4 linked regions of the Homo sapiens genome follow. The protein of the gene in region 2 purifies or fractionates together with the protein of the main gene of each other region. This does not show direct contact. Each region holds a gene or a part of one and is shown on either strand. Other genes may lie near its edges.

What was found. The genes of interacting proteins can lie anywhere in the genome.
Region 1: the proteins of HDAC11 (region 2) and ATG2B purify together in Homo sapiens (co-immunoprecipitation; 4 studies listed by BioGRID and IntAct, with this or other methods). This does not show direct contact.
Region 3: the proteins of HDAC11 (region 2) and CLUH purify together in Homo sapiens (co-immunoprecipitation; 3 studies listed by BioGRID and IntAct, with this or other methods). This does not show direct contact.
Region 4: the proteins of HDAC11 (region 2) and MTMR3 purify together in Homo sapiens (co-immunoprecipitation; 3 studies listed by BioGRID and IntAct, with this or other methods). This does not show direct contact.

The regions. Positions count from the first base shown.
Region 1 is NC_000014.9:96,314,415-96,319,293, reverse strand, and holds part of ATG2B (autophagy-related protein 2 homolog B), read left to right. Parts: intron 1-1,438; coding exon 1,439-1,596; intron 1,597-1,976; coding exon 1,977-2,149; intron 2,150-2,610; coding exon 2,611-2,761; intron 2,762-3,710; coding exon 3,711-3,910; intron 3,911-4,059; coding exon 4,060-4,140; intron 4,141-4,879. UniProt on the Homo sapiens protein: Lipid transfer protein required for both autophagosome formation and regulation of lipid droplet morphology and dispersion.
Region 2 is NC_000003.12:13,489,946-13,494,824, forward strand, and holds part of HDAC11 (histone deacetylase 11), read left to right. Parts: intron 1-4,879. UniProt on the Homo sapiens protein: Responsible for the deacetylation of lysine residues on the N-terminal part of the core histones (H2A, H2B, H3 and H4).
Region 3 is NC_000017.11:2,701,338-2,706,216, reverse strand, and holds part of CLUH (clustered mitochondria protein homolog), read left to right. Parts: intron 1-1,652; coding exon 1,653-1,855; intron 1,856-2,727; coding exon 2,728-2,899; intron 2,900-4,159; coding exon 4,160-4,303; intron 4,304-4,479; coding exon 4,480-4,604; intron 4,605-4,696; coding exon 4,697-4,851; intron 4,852-4,879. UniProt on the Homo sapiens protein: mRNA-binding protein involved in proper cytoplasmic distribution of mitochondria.
Region 4 is NC_000022.11:29,885,222-29,890,100, forward strand, and holds part of MTMR3 (phosphatidylinositol-3,5-bisphosphate 3-phosphatase MTMR3), read left to right. Parts: intron 1-4,879. UniProt on the Homo sapiens protein: Lipid phosphatase that specifically dephosphorylates the D-3 position of phosphatidylinositol 3-phosphate and phosphatidylinositol 3,5-bisphosphate, generating phosphatidylinositol and phosphatidylinositol 5-phosphate.

The DNA.
Region 1 (4,879 bases), on a different chromosome or scaffold from region 2:
AAGCACCATCCAATATTCGATAGTACTAATGGTATCAAGACTGTGTTTAGACCAAAATATAAATAAGGAGAACATAATAGGTGAGTGGATTATAATCTCCTGAGAGTCACAATCCTCAGTCCTGGTGTACACCTTCTAGGACTTCAGAAGCTCAAGAATTGTCCTGGCAGTGGCTTCTCACAGAAGGGGGCAGGGCTGCCTCACCACGCGGCGCCTTGACCGGTATTCACACCAGGCTTTACGATGAGTCTGGGTTTTGGCAGCACTTCCATGTGAATCATTCACTGTCCTCACCAACTGTCCGTGCCTGTTATGTGACAGCCACTGTGCTAGGCACATGTAGAGATGATCGACACAAGTCCCTCTCTTGGGCGGCTTGCAGTCTAAAAAGGGGAAACGAGAAAATTCAGGAGGGTGCTGTAGGTGCTGTGATTTAAGTGGGTCTGTGTGAAGCATATGCTGTGGGTCCAGATCTTACGATGGGTTTACTAGAAGACGTGGTGAAGTTTGAGTTTTCTTGAAAACTTCGAGGATGGATGAGGGGAGGAGGCTAGGACAGGGGCATCTGAGCAGTGACAGGTAGTTCTTTGAAAAAGTAGGATGTGGTGACAGCCTAGGTATGACATATGCCTTCCCATTGGTTGCCAGTATTGATTGGGCTAGTCTCGCTAGTCATAAGGGTTTTTCTCTCCTTATTTTTTGCTCCATATGCATTCTTCATCTCATGAAGTCTTCCCAGTGAAGCTGTGCTTTCTGTTGCTGATGAGAGAAAAATCAGGTATTTCTAGGGAAAGAACTGAATTGATCCCACAGATAAATACTTGCCTTAAAAAAAGAACTGAATTGGGAGCTGGATGTAATCTACATAATCTGGACTTTCATCCCCATTTTTCCACTAATTAGCCATGTGACTTTGGGAAGGTCACATAACCTTTATGAGACAGTTTCTTCAGGTGTAAAGTGAGAATAATGATTCTGCCCTGGACACCCCACAGGACTGAGGGGAGGGTCAGTGAGATGATGCAGGATCAGTTCCAGTTTACAAAGTGCTCTCATATAGGTGAGCCGTCCTCCTTTTCTGTTCTTTGTGGGTTTTTATTTTTCATGAGCTTCTGTTTCTAAGGTATATTTTGAAATGTAATATGAATTTGTAATTTGATGTATATAACATAGGTAAAATTAGGCAAGTATCTATTTAGGTATCTAATTGTGCAGATTCTTTTGTCACTGCCCTGCATTATAGCCATATCAGTTATTTTTTCATTGAAAGAATGCAGTTGTTATTTTTGTTGTTTTTCCAAATTCTTGTAGGATCTAATTTCCATTTTGCCGTTTAAAAAATTATTGTTCATACGATCTTTTAAAAGGATTTTTTTTTAAGTTTGCCTTCTGTTGAACTAGGAGTTAAGTACTTATTTTTCAACTTTTGTCTTTATAGGATCTTTAATGACTTGCTACTGTGGGAACCAACAGCTCCTTCACCAGTGGAGACATTCGAGAATATTTCCTATGGCATTGGGCTTTCAGTAGCCAGTCAGCTCATTAATACTTTCAACAAAGATAGTTTTAGTGCATTTAAATCTGCAGTTCACTATGGTAATATATTTTTAATTTGTTTTGATTTAAAATGCCTAGTTTATCAATTAACAAAGTACTAACCTTTGAATTGTGGATTTAAAAATCTTTATGTTTCATTGTAACTATATTTTGCAATTTCTTTTAGTAATTTATAAGAATATTTCCTTATTTCTATCTGTATATTGAGAATATCATTATCACTTAAATATGTTCTCTTTAGAATGATAGTGTGCACATTGTTTGAAGTTCAAAGCTAAAGAGAAAAACAGTATGTATTTCTGTGTTCACACCATATTCTTTGTAAAACTAAGCAGGTTATATAAAATATTTTCATGATCATTTTTATGTTGCTGTTTTAATATGCTATCAGAATGTAATTGTATGTTTATTTCTCATAGATGAGGAAAGTGGATCTGAGGAGGAGACTTTGCAGTATTTTTCCACTGTTGATCCCAACTATCGTTCTCGCAGGAAAAAAAAATTAGACTCTCAGAACAAGAACTCTCAGAGTTTTCTCTCAGTTCTTCTGAATATTAATCATGGATTAATAGCAGTGTTCACAGATGTGAAGGTGAGGTTTACAAATCCGAAGTGTTTTTTCAAATGTATCTTACTTTAAATAAATCTGCTAGGATACATATCTAGTGATTGAAGTATTTGATATTTTGAAGTTGTTTCAGGGACTGATGAAGACCAGTGTCCTGGGGCAAACCATGATGATAGCAACTTTGGGGATTTAGCTTTCGTTGCAGATCAAACTTTGTGGGGCTCTCCCTTTGGAAAACAGGTGCTAATTCTGCTTCTGGGGTGACAACAAAGTACAGAGATTCATCTGATAGAAGAGGTTCCACATAGCATTTAAGTTATCCAGTTTTATTTTATACCATGATATTGAATAGTTCAAGGATTAGACTGCTTTGCTGCAGTATGGGAGATTTTCCTAAGCTGAATCAACAAAGAGCATCTCAAGGAACATGCTTACTTTTCTGCATTTAAGTAATAACTTCTGTGTTTTTCTGATCTTTTTACTAGCAAGATAATGGAGATCTGTTGGAAAACAAGCATGGTGAATTCTGGTTAGAGTTCAATAGTGGTTCATTATTTTGTGTGACAAAATATGAAGGTTTTGATGACAAGCACTACATTTGCCTTCATTCTAGCAGTTTCAGTCTGTACCATAAAGGTAGGACAAACACGTGTCTTGGTTTCTTCTCTTTAGACATGTTTAAATTTCTTGTTTAACAAAGAAAATCTATTGAGAACAGAACTTTGGTATTAGAAATTATTTTCTGTGGAGGGCTCTCATTCTGCTGTCAAAGTAATATTTACAAATTAGAAGTCAACTTCAGGTTCTTTTTTTGCAATAGCTTTGTTGAGGTATAATTCACACACCATACTCATTTAAAGTGTACCTTTCAGTGGTTTTTAGTATTTCACAAGAGTTATGCAACCGTCACCATAGTCAATTTTAAAACATGTTTATTACCCCATGAAGAAATTTCATACACTTTAGTGATAAACTTTCACCCCTTCCGCTCTCTCCTTCCCGTAAACACACTAACCTACACTCTGTTTCTATGGATTTGCATATTCAGAAGTTTCTTATAAATGGAATCATACAATATTTGGCCTTTTTGACTGGCTTCTTTCATTTGACACGCTTTCAAAGTTCATCCAAGTTGTATCTGTACTTCATTCCTTTTTATTGCCAAATAATATTCCACTGTAAAGATAGATCACATCTTATGTATCCATTCATCAGTCGATGGGACTATATGTTCTTTATTCTTCTTTAAGGAATATTTCCTTTTGGTTCCAGATATAGAACCTACCATTTTTTGAGCAGTTACCTGAGTTTACCTTGTTTCATAGACATGAGATGTTTGTGATAGTTTTCTATTTAATTTTCCTAGCATTTCAGAATCTTTTGTTTCTTTAAGCTGTGTACGGTCAGTCACACTAACATTAGCAAAGAGGAGTGGATTATTAATGCCATGCTGGTTTTTGTCATCATGCCTCCTTAAGTTATATTCAGTGGAAGTACGTGGATTTTTGTTTTGAGTCATGTAAGTTGATTAGCTAATTTCAAGTAATCATTTTGTTACTATTTTTACCTCAATGTGGATCTCTAGGCATAGTGAATGGAGTGATTCTCCCGACAGAAACACGACTTCCCAGCTCAACCCGCCCACACTGGTTGGAACCTACTATTTATTCCTCTGAAGAAGATGGCCTCAGTAAAACTTCTTCAGATGGAGTTGGAGGAGACAGTTTGAATATGCTGTCTGTTGCCGTTAAAATATTGTCTGATAAATCAGAGTCCAATACAAAGGTTTGTGTTTTGTACTTTTATGCCACTGTTGATTTGATTCTAGCTAAAAATAATTACATAAAAGGCAACATATTTATTTTCTTGGAAAAACTTTTGAGTTATAGGATTACATAGGTGGTAAATGTCATTCTTTGTCTTGTTCTGTATAGGAATTTCTCATTGCCGTAGGACTGAAAGGAGCCACTCTCCAGCATAGAATGCTTCCTTCTGGGCTTAGCTGGCATGAGCAGGTAAGAGAGCTGTTATATATGTATTAATTTATTTAAAAATTTGTGTTGACATCTAATACACATACTGAAAAGTTTGTAAGTCATAAATGTTCAGCTCAGTGAATTATCATTAAGTGAATACTACGGTGTCACCACCTTTTAGGTTAAGAAATAGAACAGTATTGGCCGGGCACGGTGGCTCATGCCTGTAATCCCAGCACTTTGGGAAGCCAAGGCAGGTGGATCACCTGAGGTCAGGAGTTCGAGCCCAGCTTGGTCAATCCCGTCTCTACTAAAAATACAAAAATTAGCTGGGCGTGGTGGAATGCACCTGTAATCCCAGCTACTGGAGAGGCTGAGGCAGGAGAATCGCTTGAACCCGGGAGGCGGAGGTTGCAGTGAGCTGAGATCGTGCCACTGCACTCCAGTCTGGCGACAAGAGCGAAGCTCTGTCTCAAAAAACAAAACAAAACAAAACAAAACAAAACAAAACAAAACAAAACAGTATTATCACCTCAGAATGTAATTGGTTTTTTACCTTAAAGTGTGGTCCTCAAAACCTCTCAATGACAGAGTTATCTTATATGTCATTAAAGGAAGGGAAGGGACTCTGTATCCCAGGACTTGTAGAATGTCTGGCGTAGAGGAGCAGTGAATGGTGTGTTGAATTGCTTTTATAATCAGAAGTTCTTTAAGTGCAATATTTCCATATAATTCCCTAGGCCAATAATATGATGTTGCTTTAAAGCATTTTATCAGG
Region 2 (4,879 bases):
TGGCTTTGGAGCAAATTTTGAAATTCCAGATTGTGAGGCCTCCAACTTTGTTCTTTTTTTTTTTTTGAGACGCAGTCTCGCTTTGTCGCCTATGCTGGAGTGCAATGGCGCGATCTCGGCTCACTGCAACCTCCGCCTTCTGGTTTCAGGTGATTCTCCTGCCTCAGCCTCCCGAGTAGCTGGGATTACAGGCGCCCGGCACCACGCCTAGCTAATTTTTCTATTTTTAGTAGAGATGAGGTCTCACCATGTTGGTCAGGTTGGTCTCAAACTCCTGACCTCATGATCTGCCTGCCTCTGCCTCCCAAAGTGCTGGGATTACAGGCATGAGCCACCGTGCCCAGCCAACTTTGTTCTTTTTTAAGATCGTTTTGGCTGTTTGAGGTCCCTTGAGATTCCATGTGAATTATAGCATCAACTTCCATTTTTTGCAAAAAAGGCCATTGGGATTTTGACAGGAATTGCATTGAGTAAATTGCTTTGGGGAGTTTTGCCATCTTAACAATATTCGGTCTTTCAATCCATGAACATGGGATGTCTTTCCGTTTATTTATGTCTTTAATTTCTTTCAGCAATGTTTTGTAGCTTTCAATGGACAAATCTTGCACCTCTTGGTTAAATCTATTCCCATGCATTTTATTCTTTTCGATGTTATTATAAATGAAATTGTTTGAATTTCCTTTTAAGATTGTTCATTGCTGGTATATACAATAATCAGTTGTATAGAAATACAACTGATTTTTTTGTGTTGATCTTGTATCCTACAACTTTGCTGAATTTGTTTCTTAGCATTTTTTTCTTTTTTTTTTTTTTTTTTTTTTTTTTAGACAGAGTCTCTCTCTGTTACCAGGCTGGAGTGCAGTGGCATGATCTCGGCTCACTGCAACCTCCGCCTCCCAGGTTCAAGCGATTTTTCTGCCTCAGCCTCCCAAGTAGCTGGGACTGCAGGTGCATGCCACCATGCCCAGCTAATTTTTGTATTTTTAGTAGAGATGGGGTTTCGCCATGTTGGCCAGTGTGGTCTCGATCTCTTGACCTCGTGATCTGCCCACCTCGGCCTCTCAAAGTGCTGGTATTACAGGCATGAGCCACTGCGCCTGGCCTGTTTCTTAGCTTTAATAGTTGTGTGTGTGTGTGTGTGTGTGTGTGTGTGTGTGTGTGTGTGTGTATTCTTTAGGATCCTCTATATATAACATCATACCGTCTGTGAAGAGAGGTAGCTTCCTTTCCAATTTGGATGGCTTTTATTTATTTTTCTTGCCTAATTCCTCTGATTGGAACTTCCAGTACTATGTTAAATAGCAGTAGTGGAGCAGGCATCTTTGTCTTGTTCCTGATCTTAGACAGAGGGCTTTCAATATTTTACCATTGAGTATAATGTCAGCTGTGGGGTTAAATTTTTTAACGCCTTTTATCATGTTGAGGGAGTTCCCTTCTGTTCCTAGTTTGTTGAGTGATTTTATCACAAAAGGCTATTGAATTTTGTCAAAGGCTTTTTGTGCATCAACTGAGAGATCGTGTTTTCCCCTTCTCTGCTTTTGCTCCCCTTCTACTGGTAGAAAGGACCCACCTAAAGCAAGCAGTGGGCGCCCTAGAGGGGTTACAGCCTAGCTCTTCCCTGAGAGCAGTTCTTGGTTTGAACCTGAGGGCAGCGGGTCCGCCTGAGGAAACCAGGTGTCTGGAAGGTGAAGGCTTGTGGAGCTGAGTAGATGGGGCAGTAGGTCCCAGAGATATGGCCAGCCCCAGTCATGTCCTGCTCTCTGTGGAGTCCCACAGAGGCTGACGAGGTATGGGGGCCCTGATAGCTGGCTACATGCAGGCCATGCCCTTTGGCGGGTGGTGGCGTCAGTCTGGGGCAGACCTCCCATGCTCACATAGTGTGCTCATTCACCCAGCACTGCCTTAGGTTGGGCTCCCTAGAATGGTGGCTCTTAAACCCCAGCAAGTATCTGAAACACTGGAGGGCTTGTTCCAGCAGATGGCTGGGCCCCTCCCAGAGTTTCTGATCCATGTTGTCTTGGGTAGAGACTGGGAATCTGCATTTCTAATACATTCTCAAGTGTTGTGGATGCTGCTGGTCTGAGAACCACATCCCTAGAAGCAGAGTCTGAGATGGTGCAGGCGATTTCAGATGAACCCTGCAAGAGGCACAGGCAGTGGGGAGCGGGCAGAGTGAGCAGCTGAGCACAGATGTGGATTTGGAAGTGTGGCCTCAGCCTGATTCCATGGAGATCTCTGGGGCGTGAATGTCACCACAGGGTTGCCCTGCCCAGAAGCATGTGGCCTGGCTGTTACAGGCCCTTGTCAGTCATGGCTCTCCTGGGATGATGCAGGTGAGGTGGCTTCTGTCAGGAGAAGGGCTCTGGTGCACCAGCCAGAAAAGGGGATCAACGGCATGCATGGCCAGCACCTACTGTGTGCCAGGCATGGCCTCAGCACTGTCTGCACAGCAGTGAGCAGACGCGTGCTGTCCTCCTGGAGCTGGCATCCTTTTGAGGGAGATAGATGCTAATCGGGACAGTCTGTAGCCTCAGGGAGAGAAGTGCTATCTGGGAAGATGAAGCCAAGGTGTGGGCTCCAGGGGGCCCCAGGTGGGAGTATTTTATTTTATTTTTTTGAGACAGAGTTTCACTCTGTCACCCAGGCTGGAGTGCAGTGGTGCGATCTTGGCTCACTGCAACCTCCACCCCTTGGGTTGAAGAGATTCTCCTCCCTCGCCTCCTGAGTAGCTGGGATTACAGGCACCTGCCACCATGCCCGGCTAATTTTTGTGTTTTTAATGGACACCAGATTTCACCATGTTGGCCAGGCTGGTCGTGAACTCTGGACCTCAAGTAATCCGCCTACCTCAGCCTCCCAAAGTTCTGGGATTACAGATGTAAGCCACCAAGCCTGGCTGGGTGTGGGGATTTTAGATTAGATGAGGAGGACAGGCCTCTCTGACTGGTTTCCACCTCTAAGTCCTCATCCAAAGCCTTGTTTTATAGATGAGACAGAGGCACAGAGAAGTGAATTCTAAATTCACATAGCCAGTGGCAGAACCCAGACTTGGACCAGTTTGGGGAACTTCTGAGCCTGTCCACCCCAGTCCTAGCCTCACCCACAGTGCCCTTGCCCAGGGCGAGACTATCAGGGAGCCTGACCTGCTGGATCTGGGCAGTCCCACCGTGGCATGCTGCATGTCCCAGAGAAGGTATCTGTCAGCAGTGCAGCACCCCCCACCTGCCCCACCCACAGCTCCCTCGGGGGCTATCCCTGGAAGTGTTGGTCAGAAAGTGAATCTCCAGATGTCACCTGGTGGTGCCCTGAGCTCCTCCTACCTGCCACCTCCTCTGACCACATAGAGCCTGCTCTAGCCCAGGCCCTCTTCCCTCTCCTCCCCTCACCCAGGGACCCGCCACTAGTCCGCCCCACCCACTCTGTTTATTTCTCACCTTGGCCACTGATGGGTGGTTTCTCCTAGAGCGGTGCTGCCCTGTGGAACCTTCTGCAATGATGGAAATGCTCAGACCTGCTCTGTGCAGTCCAGTCGCCACTGGCCGCATGTGGCTCTTGAAATATGGAGAGTGTAACTGAGGAACCAAACTTGAATTTTTAAAATTTTGATGAATTTACAATCACTCGTAAGTAGCCACCTGTGGCTGGCAGCCACTGGATTGGATGGTGCTGGTCTAGGGTGTTGGCAACCACATCACTGCCTTGTGCAGAAACCACTGCTGCACCAGGAGAAGGCCCAAGTGCCAGCCTCCTCTTCACTGCCCGAAGCCTGCTGCTCCGCTGAGGGGCTCGTCTCGCCAACGTTGGCACAGCAAACACACATACTTTCTCCTGTGGGGGCTGGTCCTGCTGGCCAAGTCCCGTGCATGCTCCTGGGTGGCTGCACCTGGCCCCTGCACCAGGTCAGGTCCAATCTGTGGAGGATACCAAGGAACCTCTTTGAGGTTCCCAAGTGTGTCCCATGCCACTGCAGTTTTGCAGAAGGTTAGTGTGTGTGACTTAAAAGGCAAAGAGGGCAGGCAGATCTTCTGACATCTGGGGGGAGCAAAGTTAGAATGGAATATTTGCTGCAGAACTTCTCAGAGCCTTTAGCATGCTAGGATGTGCTGCAAATCTCCAGGAGGCAGGCGGCATAAGCCATGCTTCCCAAACGACTTGCCGGTGGAAGCCTCCTTGAGGAGTGCTGTGCGAGACCCGTGGCTGTGGAGCACACGAGAGAATGCCTTTCTCGTGGTTTGTGTCCATGCTGGGCTCTCGGCTGCATTGTCTTCCAGTCTGTGTCCCCTGCTGGCTTCCCAGGGAGGGAGGGAGGCTGTGACTCCATGTGCTCCTTCAGCGGCTCGTTTGTTTGCTCATTCGTTCATGGAAAACCATGGTTCCATGCCAGCCACACGCGGGGCCTCTGCCGGGCAGTGGGATGAGTGTGGTGAACAAGAGGAGCTGATGACCTCAGGCAGGGACCTTCCTTTCTCTGGGTCTGTCCCGCAACATACACACACGCACACACGCACACGGACATACCTGTGCACACATGTATACACAAGACACATACACACACATACATACACTCATGGGTGTGTCCTGCAGCTGTCTGGCTGTGCTGGTCCCAGCTCTTACACTCCCACCCCTTCCCAGGCCCTGTGATGCCTCCATGTTACCGCCAGAGGGCCTGGGCTTGTGGAAGTGGTGCCCCGTGGGCACCTCTCCTTCCCGACCATGAGTGGGACCCTGCTCACTGCCTTCTCTACCAGAGTGAGGGAGTGATGCCAGCTTCCCCCGCCTTCAGCCGCCCTTGCCGGCCTGGGCTGGTGGCCATGGGCATTCCCCAGCAGTGTGGGCAGGCTGGGTGCCTGGCACCCCCAGGACTATGACAGAAGCCTCC
Region 3 (4,879 bases), on a different chromosome or scaffold from region 2:
CCTTCCCTGAGGCTCCTGCTCCGTGTTTCTGGTGGGTCCGGATTGGGACCACACAGTTCTGGGAAAGGCACCTGTCCCCGCTCCTGAGAGCCGGGTGGGGAAGGGGAGGTGGGGTCTAGATGGGATGGGCAGAGCTGGGCGAGCTCTTCTTTCTGGAAGGGAACCCAGGCACTCCTCAGAGTTGGGACCGTTGAACTTCAAGCCAAGCCAGGCAGGTGAGCCTGGCCCATGGACAGATCCTGGGGGCCAAGGTCCTCATCTCCTAGATGGGTGCCCAGGCAGGCCCGTGTCTGCTGGAGGGTTACTGAGAGGCGATCCTTGGCTCCTCAGCGGAACAGGGGGTTCTCCTTTGTTCCACTGGTGCCTGGGTAGGAATGCAAGGTTTTGTCACCTGCTCCCCACCCTGGAGCATGTGGATTGGGTGCTGTCTTCAAATATTGGATGTAGCTAGAGGTTTGCAGTAAGTACTTTATTTGTTGCCTTTTTTGTTGAGCCTGGGCAAGATAGAAGGTGGTGGGTAGAGCTGCTGGTGAGGACGCCACCCTGGGTGCAGCCGAATGTCTCTGGGAATGAAAGGGGGAGGGAGTGTGATTCTGCCATTAAGGGTCATTTGGGCAGGCTGTGGAAAAGGTTTATTTCTCCTAGGCCTTGAAGGGTGAGTCAGTGTTTGCTGTACAGAATGGGATGTCAGGGGCAGCACAGACACAGAAGCACAGCGGTGGGAGGGCGGTGGGAGGGCTGTGGGCGGTACCAGGCTTGCATGGTGTGGTGTCCTTAGACCTCAGCAGGGAGCAGGCAGGAGCTGAGGCTGACTTCAGGTGGGTGCCTGAGAGCGCTGGCCTGAGAAGCTTGGTCTTGTAAGCAGTGGGCTTCCTAGGAGGGTTGCAGGTGGCACTGCTGAAATAGAGGAAATGCCTGCCCTAGGGCAGTGGCTGCAGAGGCCGGGTCCCGTGGGTGGGTTGGGAGATTTAGGGTGGGTGACTAGATAGAGCAGGTGCCAGTTTGAGGAGGAAGATGAGTTCTGTCCCTGCAAGACGAGGCTTCAGTGATGCCTCAGGGACAGCCACATGTTGATGCCTGGGAGGCAGCGGTCTCCTTGGTCCAAAAGGCTGGAGAGAGGACAGGATTGGCCGTGTGAGCCACGGGGCAGGAGTGTATGGGAGGGGGTGGGGTCAGAAACAGGAGAGGCTGGGCCTAGGCACTCCCCTGCAGCCCCCCTGCAGCCCAGGACCACAGCTCAGGAGGGATGGAAGAGGATGGAGCTGGAGAGGGAGGGGCAAGGGCACTGTGTGGGGTCAGAGAAGAGGAGAGGAAGAGGGGAACTGCTGCTGGGAAGCTAGGTGTGTTAGGGCCGGAGGAGACCCTCGGGCTTGGCTTGAAGGGTGGCTTTGGTGACCCTGGGGAGAGTGGTTTGGGACATGGGTTCAGGTGCAAGCCATACCACAGTGGGCCAGGGAACAGTGGCTGGGAGGGGCGGCTGGGTGTGGAAGTGGCCTGCAGGTGCACGGAGGGCGAGGCGCGACCGTGAGGCTGGGACTCTCGAGGGCATGCAGATGCCTTTCCAGAAGGCACGTGTCCCCGTGTGGGGTCAGGCGGACAGCCCCGCCGACCAGCGAGGCTGCCTGATTCTGACCCGTTCTTGTCACCCGCAGAGCTGCCATCAGTCATGCTCTTAAACGGGGACTGCCCAGAGAGCCTGAAGAAGGAGGCGGCGGCGGCCGAGCCACCCAGGGAAAATGGGCTTGACGAGGCCGGCCCGGGAGATGAGACCACCGGCCAGGAAGTCATTGTCATTCAGGACACGGGCTTTTCTGTGAAGATCCTCGCCCCTGGGATCGAGCCCTTCTCCCTGCAGGTAAGATGGAGGAACGGGTGCTGGGGGCCAGGCCTGAGCCTGCTGGGGAGGGTGAGCTGGAAAGCTCAGCCTTGCTCGTGCTCCTACCGGCCCCATTTTGTGGCAGGAAACTGAGGATCCCGTGCCCTCCCTAGAGTCACTCAGCTAGCGTGGTGGACGTGGGAATCGAGCCCAGGGTCAGGTCGTTGCCCCATTGCTAGAGGACAGCAACCAGCTGGGCCTGCCAGCCCTATGTGGGGAGGGGAGTGATAGTGGCTGGGAAGTGTTGGCATCCCAGGACTCCCCAGCCTCTTGCTCTGTGCCCTCAGGCAAGTCACCTCTCTCTGGGCCGTGATTTTACCATCTGCCAGAGGGGAGGGTAGTATTGGGTTATCTCCAAGGGCAGAGCCAGCGTGGAGGTCTTGCAAGCCGGTGACTCAGTGGGGAACGAGACAGGGTCGTCGTATGTCTCGGCACCCGCAGGCTTGGGCCCCAGAGCACCCCTTCTGGAAGGGGAAAGCCATTTGCCCCAGGCACCTTAGCACTGGGCAAGGCCGGGGGCGAGCCTGCCGTCTTCTGTCCCGCTGTTCTTCATCTCCCTTCTCTGCTCGGGCATTGCTCTGGGTCTGCAGGCCGAGTCGGTGGGCCAGGCTCCAGGCTGCACACACAGGGCATGGCATGTGTGGACATGGCCTGGATTTAAAAGCCAGAAAGTGGGATAGCCGATATTCGAGTATTTGGGGCATTTATTCTGGGGACCAAGGTACTTTGGGCTGGGGACAAGGGGATATTGTCCTTGCTGTCCGCTACGTGGCCTCTCACCGGGGCGGTTGGGGCCTTCTCTCCCCGCTACGTGCTCTCTCACCGGGGTGGGCGGGGCCTTCTCCCTGCAGGTGTCCCCCCAGGAGATGGTGCAGGAGATTCACCAGGTGCTCATGGACCGGGAGGACACGTGTCACCGCACCTGCTTCTCACTGCACCTGGATGGCAACGTGCTGGACCACTTCTCGGAGCTGCGCAGCGTCGAGGGGCTGCAGGAGGGCTCTGTGCTGCGTGTGGTGGAAGGTTGGTCTGGAAGTTGGACAGCCTGCCCGGGGGAGGGCCCACGGAGGCAGAGGCAGGCAGCACCATCCATGCCAGGGTCCCTGTGTCACGGATGAGCTCATGGAGGCAGGATTGGAGCACAGATCTGCTTCTCAGGCCAGCACACCTATATCTGCCAACTTCACGGCCCATGGGTTAAAGAACAGAGCCGTGGGCTGGGCATGGTGGCTCACGCCTGTAATCCCAACACTTTGGGAGGCCAAGGCGTGTGGATCACCTGAGGTCAGGAGTTGGAGACTTGCCTGGCCAACATGGTGAAACCCCATCTCTACTAAAAATACAAAAAGTTAGCTGCGCGTGGTGGCAGGTGCCTGTAATCCCAGCTACTCGGGAGGCTGAGGCAGGAGAATCACTTGAACCTGGGAGGCAGAGGTTGCAGTGTGCCCGGATCGTGCCACTGCACTCCAGCATGGGCAACAAGAACGAAACTCCGTCTCAAAAAAAAAAACAAAACAAAAGAACAGAGCCGTGATTCTAAAAAAAAAAAATCAGGCAGTACCATCCCAGGGCGTGAAGTCAGCGCAGTTCAGTTCTGTAGAGATCCATGAGAAGTCCCAAACGTTTCCTAGCCCTAGAGTGGGGAGGTCGGGCACGGGGAGGTGCCATCCGGTTGGTCTGTGGCCTCGAGTTTTCTGGGTAGAAGCTGCTTGGGTTCCACCCCAGGGCCTGTCCGCCTGTTGAGAGCAGTGACGGAAAAGGTCTGTAGCTCAACAGCGCCCACAGTTGATCACGGAACCTCTCCCCTCCACCAAAAGAACTGCCATTAAAATCCCATGAAACCACATAGGGGCAGTGTTGACATTGGGGGCCTTGGAAAGTCCTCAGGCCACCCCTACATGAGGCTGCCTCGGGAGAGCAGGGCAAGGCTGTGGTGTGGAAGTCCCACAGCTCCAAAAGCCCTGCCCAGCCGACACACTGGCGCACAAAAGCAGGCAGCCTTGTGGACGCCTGAGGCCTGTGTGTGCTTCAGAGGCATTTGGCAGAAAGTTCTTTATAAACAAAGATCCCTGCTCACCAGTAGGCAGAGTGTGTGTGTGTGTGTGTTTGTGGTGTCAAAACCAGAACTCCAGCTTATGTGTTCACAGTGGAATTTGAAAACGGAAACCTAAAGTTGAAAATTAAAACCACTGTGTTAGCACCTCCAAAACCTGTTTTGTGCTGGGCAGGTTGTTCAGGGTGCAGGGCCCTGGTAACGCCATACCCTCCCTGCCTTCCTGACAGAGCCGTACACGGTGCGTGAGGCCCGCATCCACGTGCGCCATGTCCGAGACCTGCTCAAGAGCCTGGACCCATCCGATGCCTTCAACGGGGTTGACTGCAACTCCTTGTCCTTCCTGAGTGTCTTCACCGACGGCGACCTGGGAGGTGCGGGAGGCACTGGGGCCGGGGATTGGGCCAAAGGGCGGGGAGCACGGAGGTGGGGGGCTGGAGAAGGGGCCGAGGGGCCTGGGCCTGAGGCACCCGGACCACGGCCATCAGGAGGTAGGGAGACAGCTGGCCCTGGGTGGCCCTGTGCTGACCACCAGCCTCGGGTCCCTCAGACAGCGGGAAGCGGAAGAAGGGCTTGGAGATGGACCCCATCGACTGCACACCACCCGAGTACATCCTGCCAGGGAGCCGGGAGCGGCCACTGTGTCCCCTGCAGCCCCAAAACCGTGACTGGAAGGTAGGATCCTGGGGGAGGGAGGAAGAGGGTCCCTGGCGGGGTGGAGGCCCCACACCAGAGGCCTGGCCCCTCAGACTCGGCCGCTCCCGAAGCCCTTGCAGTGCCTGAAAGTACTCACCATGAGCGGATGGAACCCGCCCCCGGGGAACCGGAAGATGCACGGGGACCTCATGTACCTGTTTGTGATCACAGCCGAGGACCGGCAAGTCAGCATCACCGCGTCCACACGGGGCTTTTACCTGAATCAGTGAGTCCCTGCCAGCCCACCACACCCC
Region 4 (4,879 bases), on a different chromosome or scaffold from region 2:
GCTCCGTGAATGATTCTGGTCAGCAAGGCATGTGAACTTTTGCTTTAGGTTGGGTATTCCAAAGAAGTCCCATTAATTATGACTTCTCAGGGTGCTTTTGTTTATAGATCTTTAAGAATTTAAGAGGTGGAGAAGGGGAAGCATGAGAAACTTAAAGAGATGCAAATTGAGCATCTCTTAAAATATAATGGATTTATGTAGGGGAAACAGATTTGTTGCCAAAAGTTAATTTGCAAACAAGTTATTAGGAACACACTTGATAAAATTAGATGCTGATTAATTGGAGATATACTGTATCCAGAGATATATTGAAGGATCCAGAGGAAATAAACAGAGAAGGAGAGGGAGTAAGTCGGCTTCTGGCTCATAAAGGGGTCCACTGAAGATGCTTCCCACCATTATGGTTGCTCCTAAACCATCTGACTCAGATTTCTAGTGGAGGGTAGGATGGGTGTGTTAGCAATCATTTGAGACCCGGGTTGTGAACCAGGAAGGGTTACTATGTATTGTGAAAAGTTCTTGAGATTTGCCGCAGGCCATGAGGAGTGGTAAAGTCAGTTTAAAAATCTGCTGTAGTTCTAGTTAACACGTTCACACCTTCTTCAGTAAAGTGGAATGCTGTTACCAAAGGAAGTATTCGTGTTTTAGAGGGGGGTGTGGTGAAGGTTCTTACAAGTTTGGAAGAGGTGGAAGAAAATGTTGTTACAATTGTGTAGAGTAGTGAAGGGCTTTGGTAAATATCCTGTCAAATCATAGAGTAGTATTTTTAGAGTTGCACCCAGCTGTCCATTAGAAGAGCCAGAGGCCTTGTCTGTTTTGTTCCCTGGTGTCCCCAGTATCCAGCGCAGTTATCCGCATATTCTGTGCCCTCAGATATTTTTTAATTAAGTGAATACTATTGATATGGGAAAAAGAACAGTTATGGTGGTTTATAGCAGTGTTAGTTATTAAAAGCTACCTGATATTTTGCAATGGATTAAAGAGCCAATTTTTGATCAAATAGGGCTCTGGGTAGGAAAGAAAATGAAAATGAAGAGCCAGCTTTCAGTGCTTATTGTTTGGAATTTTTGAGATTCCTTTAAGAAATTGTTTTCTAAAGACTGTCATGAACATTATCGAGTCCCCTAGTTTTTGAGTCTTAATGAATCTTAAGTGTTTCAGATGTTAGTTACTTTTTTAAGAGCACAGTAAGTGCAAAGGTAGTATAGAATAGTGGGAAGTTCTGGATTGACAGACATATATTCTGATTCCATCTGTGTCATTTATTGCTGTTGGGAATGTCACTTAACTTCTCTGGGCGTCAGTTTTCTCATATATACAATTAAGGGCCTATAGTCTTTGACCTCAAGTAGTTTCTCTAGCCTGATTCTGCAAATTTTTAATCATTTCTAATTATGTTATTTGGTATTCATCTCATATAGGTAGATGAACTTTTATTATTTAAAAGAAACAAGATTCTGTGTTGGGTTCTGCTTTTAGCTTATGGATTTTAGACATTGTCCAAAAGTGCTTCCGATGTTGAATGTATGTTGCAAGTGTTATGTAGAAAGAACATGCTTATGCTGTTGTAATTGGCTTAGTGTTGAAATCAAATTGGGTTTTACATTGGGAACTTCATAATTTAGTGTGAAGTCATGAGACTTGAGAATGGTTTGGGGGGAGTTTGTGCAATTTATATAGCTAGCTGTTTCTTACCACCTAATTCTGTAATTTTCTATGATGAATATATAGATAAATTTATAATCAGTGTAACATTGATTTAAGTTATAAGATGATATCAGATTCATACTGGATTGAACTAGAACTCCCAGTAACTTTAGAGGCTACCAAATTATTAACATGTCATTGCTATTTTTAATCTTAATTTTGTGATATCAATACTGATATGCTTTCATCTTTGCTTTTGTATCTAGAAACAATATACCTTTTAAGTTCATATTTGTATCAGATATTAAAAATGAAAATTGTAGCATGAAAGTGGGTAGATAGTAAATCTTGGGTTCAAGCCTGGGTTGTTATTCTTCATTACCCATGTTGTTTCTGGCAAGCTACATAACCCCCCTGAGCTCCAGTTCCCTCATTAGTGAAAGGAAGAAGAGCAACTTTTCTACTTTTCTAACAGACTGTGGATCAAACAATAGTGTATATGAAAAGCATTCTAAAAATGTAAGGGGCTGGTATTAGAATCGTATTGTATTAGAATCCTATTTTATGTCTTTGAAGAATTGGCTTGTGGAGCAGTGGTAAACCTAGTCTGTATTGTCAAGTGCAGAATTTACCAATATCACTGATATGGCAACAGAGAAGGTTTCTGCTTCTGTACTCTGGCTGGAGAAACCTTTCAGCACATGTATCCTGTCTGCCAGTCGGAATAGTCACAATGTTGCAGGGACTTCAGAGGAACCTGGGATGTCTCACATTTATGCCAAGGTCTCTACTTGGAATAGACTTGGCTAGATTTCACCCATTTTCTTATGTTGGAGCAGTGGTAGAAGGTGGTAGGAGCAAGGAGTTCAGCACATTCTGTGTAAAGTTCTAAGGCTGTGTTTTTAAGTAGCAGGTGGCAGTGTCATAGGGTAATGAAATCAATGTACTTATTTAAAAAAGCATTTTCAGAAAGAGAATATATCAGTACATTGCATAAAGTAAAAGTAAATATAGACACAGAGGTATTGTCTTGATGCTGATAGCTGCAGATATTCAGAATGATTCTGTTACAACAGATGGTAGCAAGCTTTTCTGATTTCACTTATCTGGGGTCTAAATCTAATTTCTTTAGTAGTTAATACTGTTTTGTTTTGTTTTTTTTTTTGGACACAGAATCTTGCTCTGTTTGCCCAGGCTAGAGTGCAGTGGCACGATCTCGGCTCACTGTAACCTCTGCCTCCCGGGTTCAAGATTTGGGAAACTTTTGTTTCTTTTTAAAAGATATTTTTATGTATGTATACTTGGTTGCCGTGTAAAATGTATTTTTTCTTTTTAAAAATTATAATTTTCATTTTTTGTAGAGACAGGGTTTTGCTACGTTGCCCAGGCTGGTCTTGAACTCCTGGGCTCAAAGGTAGTCCTCCTGCTTTGGCCTCCCAAAGTGCTGGGATTGTAGACATGAGCCACTGTGCCTGGCCTAAAAGGTTGTTTTTTTCTTTTGGGTTGTGATAAAACTTTGTCGTCGTTGTTTGGGGACATAGTACTTGGGCAATGTGGATAGAATGACTGTCTATAAAATAGTAAGGCATGAAACTAACGAAAACAAAAAGAAAATTGTGAAGGTGGGTTACCTTAAAGCTATTCTGTTAGTGGTGAAATACCTCATAGCTATGTTCTGAACTGTTGATTTAATGAACAAAGCACATGAACTTATGCTGTAATAATATTCTTAAGTACTCTTTTCCCTTAACATGGAGTATGGAGTACTTTAACCACAGAGGTATTGTCTTGATGCTGATAACTACGGATATTCAGAATGATTCTGTTATGACAGATGATAGCAAGCTTTTCTGATTTCACTTACCTGGGGTCGAAATCTAATTTCTTTATTAGTTAATACTTTTTTTTTTTTTTTTTTTTTTTGAGACAGAGTCTCGCTCTGTTGCCCAGGCTGGAGTGCAGTGGCGCGATCTCGGCTCACTGTAACCTCCGCCTCCTGGGTTCAAGTGATTCTCCCTGCCTCAGCCTCCCCAAGTCGTTAATACTTTTATAACTTAGTTGCAGAAGAGAAATATAAATTTATTTAGTTTTCAGAATTATTCATAGATTTATAATCTGGCAAAATATAAGGAAATTATAAGTATATTGATAAATCATGACATAACTGGCAAGAATTGGTATGAAGACAAGATGGTTATAACTTGAAATAGGGTTGTTATTTATTCTATGCCTATCATTTTTCCATGAGATAAACCAAATATTTAATTGTTTAGACTGATTCCACAAATGACATGGGAAGGCAGAGTGTTTATAAAGAGTTTTGGAAGTGATATAGGACACTATAATTTGGAGTTTTAACTTAATCTTATTTTAAATTTCAAAATGAAATTATTTCTGGTTATGAAAGCTACGGAACTTTTTTTTTTTTTTTTTTTTTTAGATGGCGTCTCGCTCTGTCACTCAGGCTGGAATGCAGTGGTGTGATCTCAGCTCACTGCAACCTCAGCCTCCTGGTTCTAGCAATTCTGCTGCCTTAGCCTCCTGAGTAGTTGGGATTACAGGTACCTGCCACCACGCCTGGCTAATTTTTGTATTTTTAGTAGAGACAGGGTTTCACCATGTTGGCCAGGCTGGTTTCGAACTCCTGACCTCAGGTGATCCGCCTGCCTTCGCCTCCCAAAGTGGTGGGATTACAGGCGTGAGCCACTGCACCTGGCCCAGAACGGTTTTAGTGTTTTTTAAAAAAAAAAGTAGAGATGACCTGTAATCCCATCTGGATGTAATGTTTGGTATTTTTGTTTTTTTTCTTATACATATCTATTGAAATAATTTTAAAAAGAACAACTTTCCCTGTAAAATTGATATTCCCTTAATGAGCATTTAGTGTTTATAATATGGATGCATCATAGTTTATAGCAGTTCTGTGTTATTAATGGATATTGTCAATTTTTCTCTTAAAGCAGTACTGTGATGAACTCGTTTGGACATTGAATTGCATTGAATTGTTCTATTATTTTATTATTTCCTTAGGATAAATTCTTTTTTTTTTTTTTTTTGAGACAGAGTCTCACTTTGTCGCCCAGGCTGGAGTGCGGTGGTGCGATCTAGGCTCACTGCAGCCTCTGCCTCCCGGGTTCAAGCGATTCTCCTGCCTCAGCCTCCTGAGTAGCTGGGCGTACAGGCGCATGCCACCACGCCCGGCTAATTTTTTGTATTTTTAGTAGAGACAGGG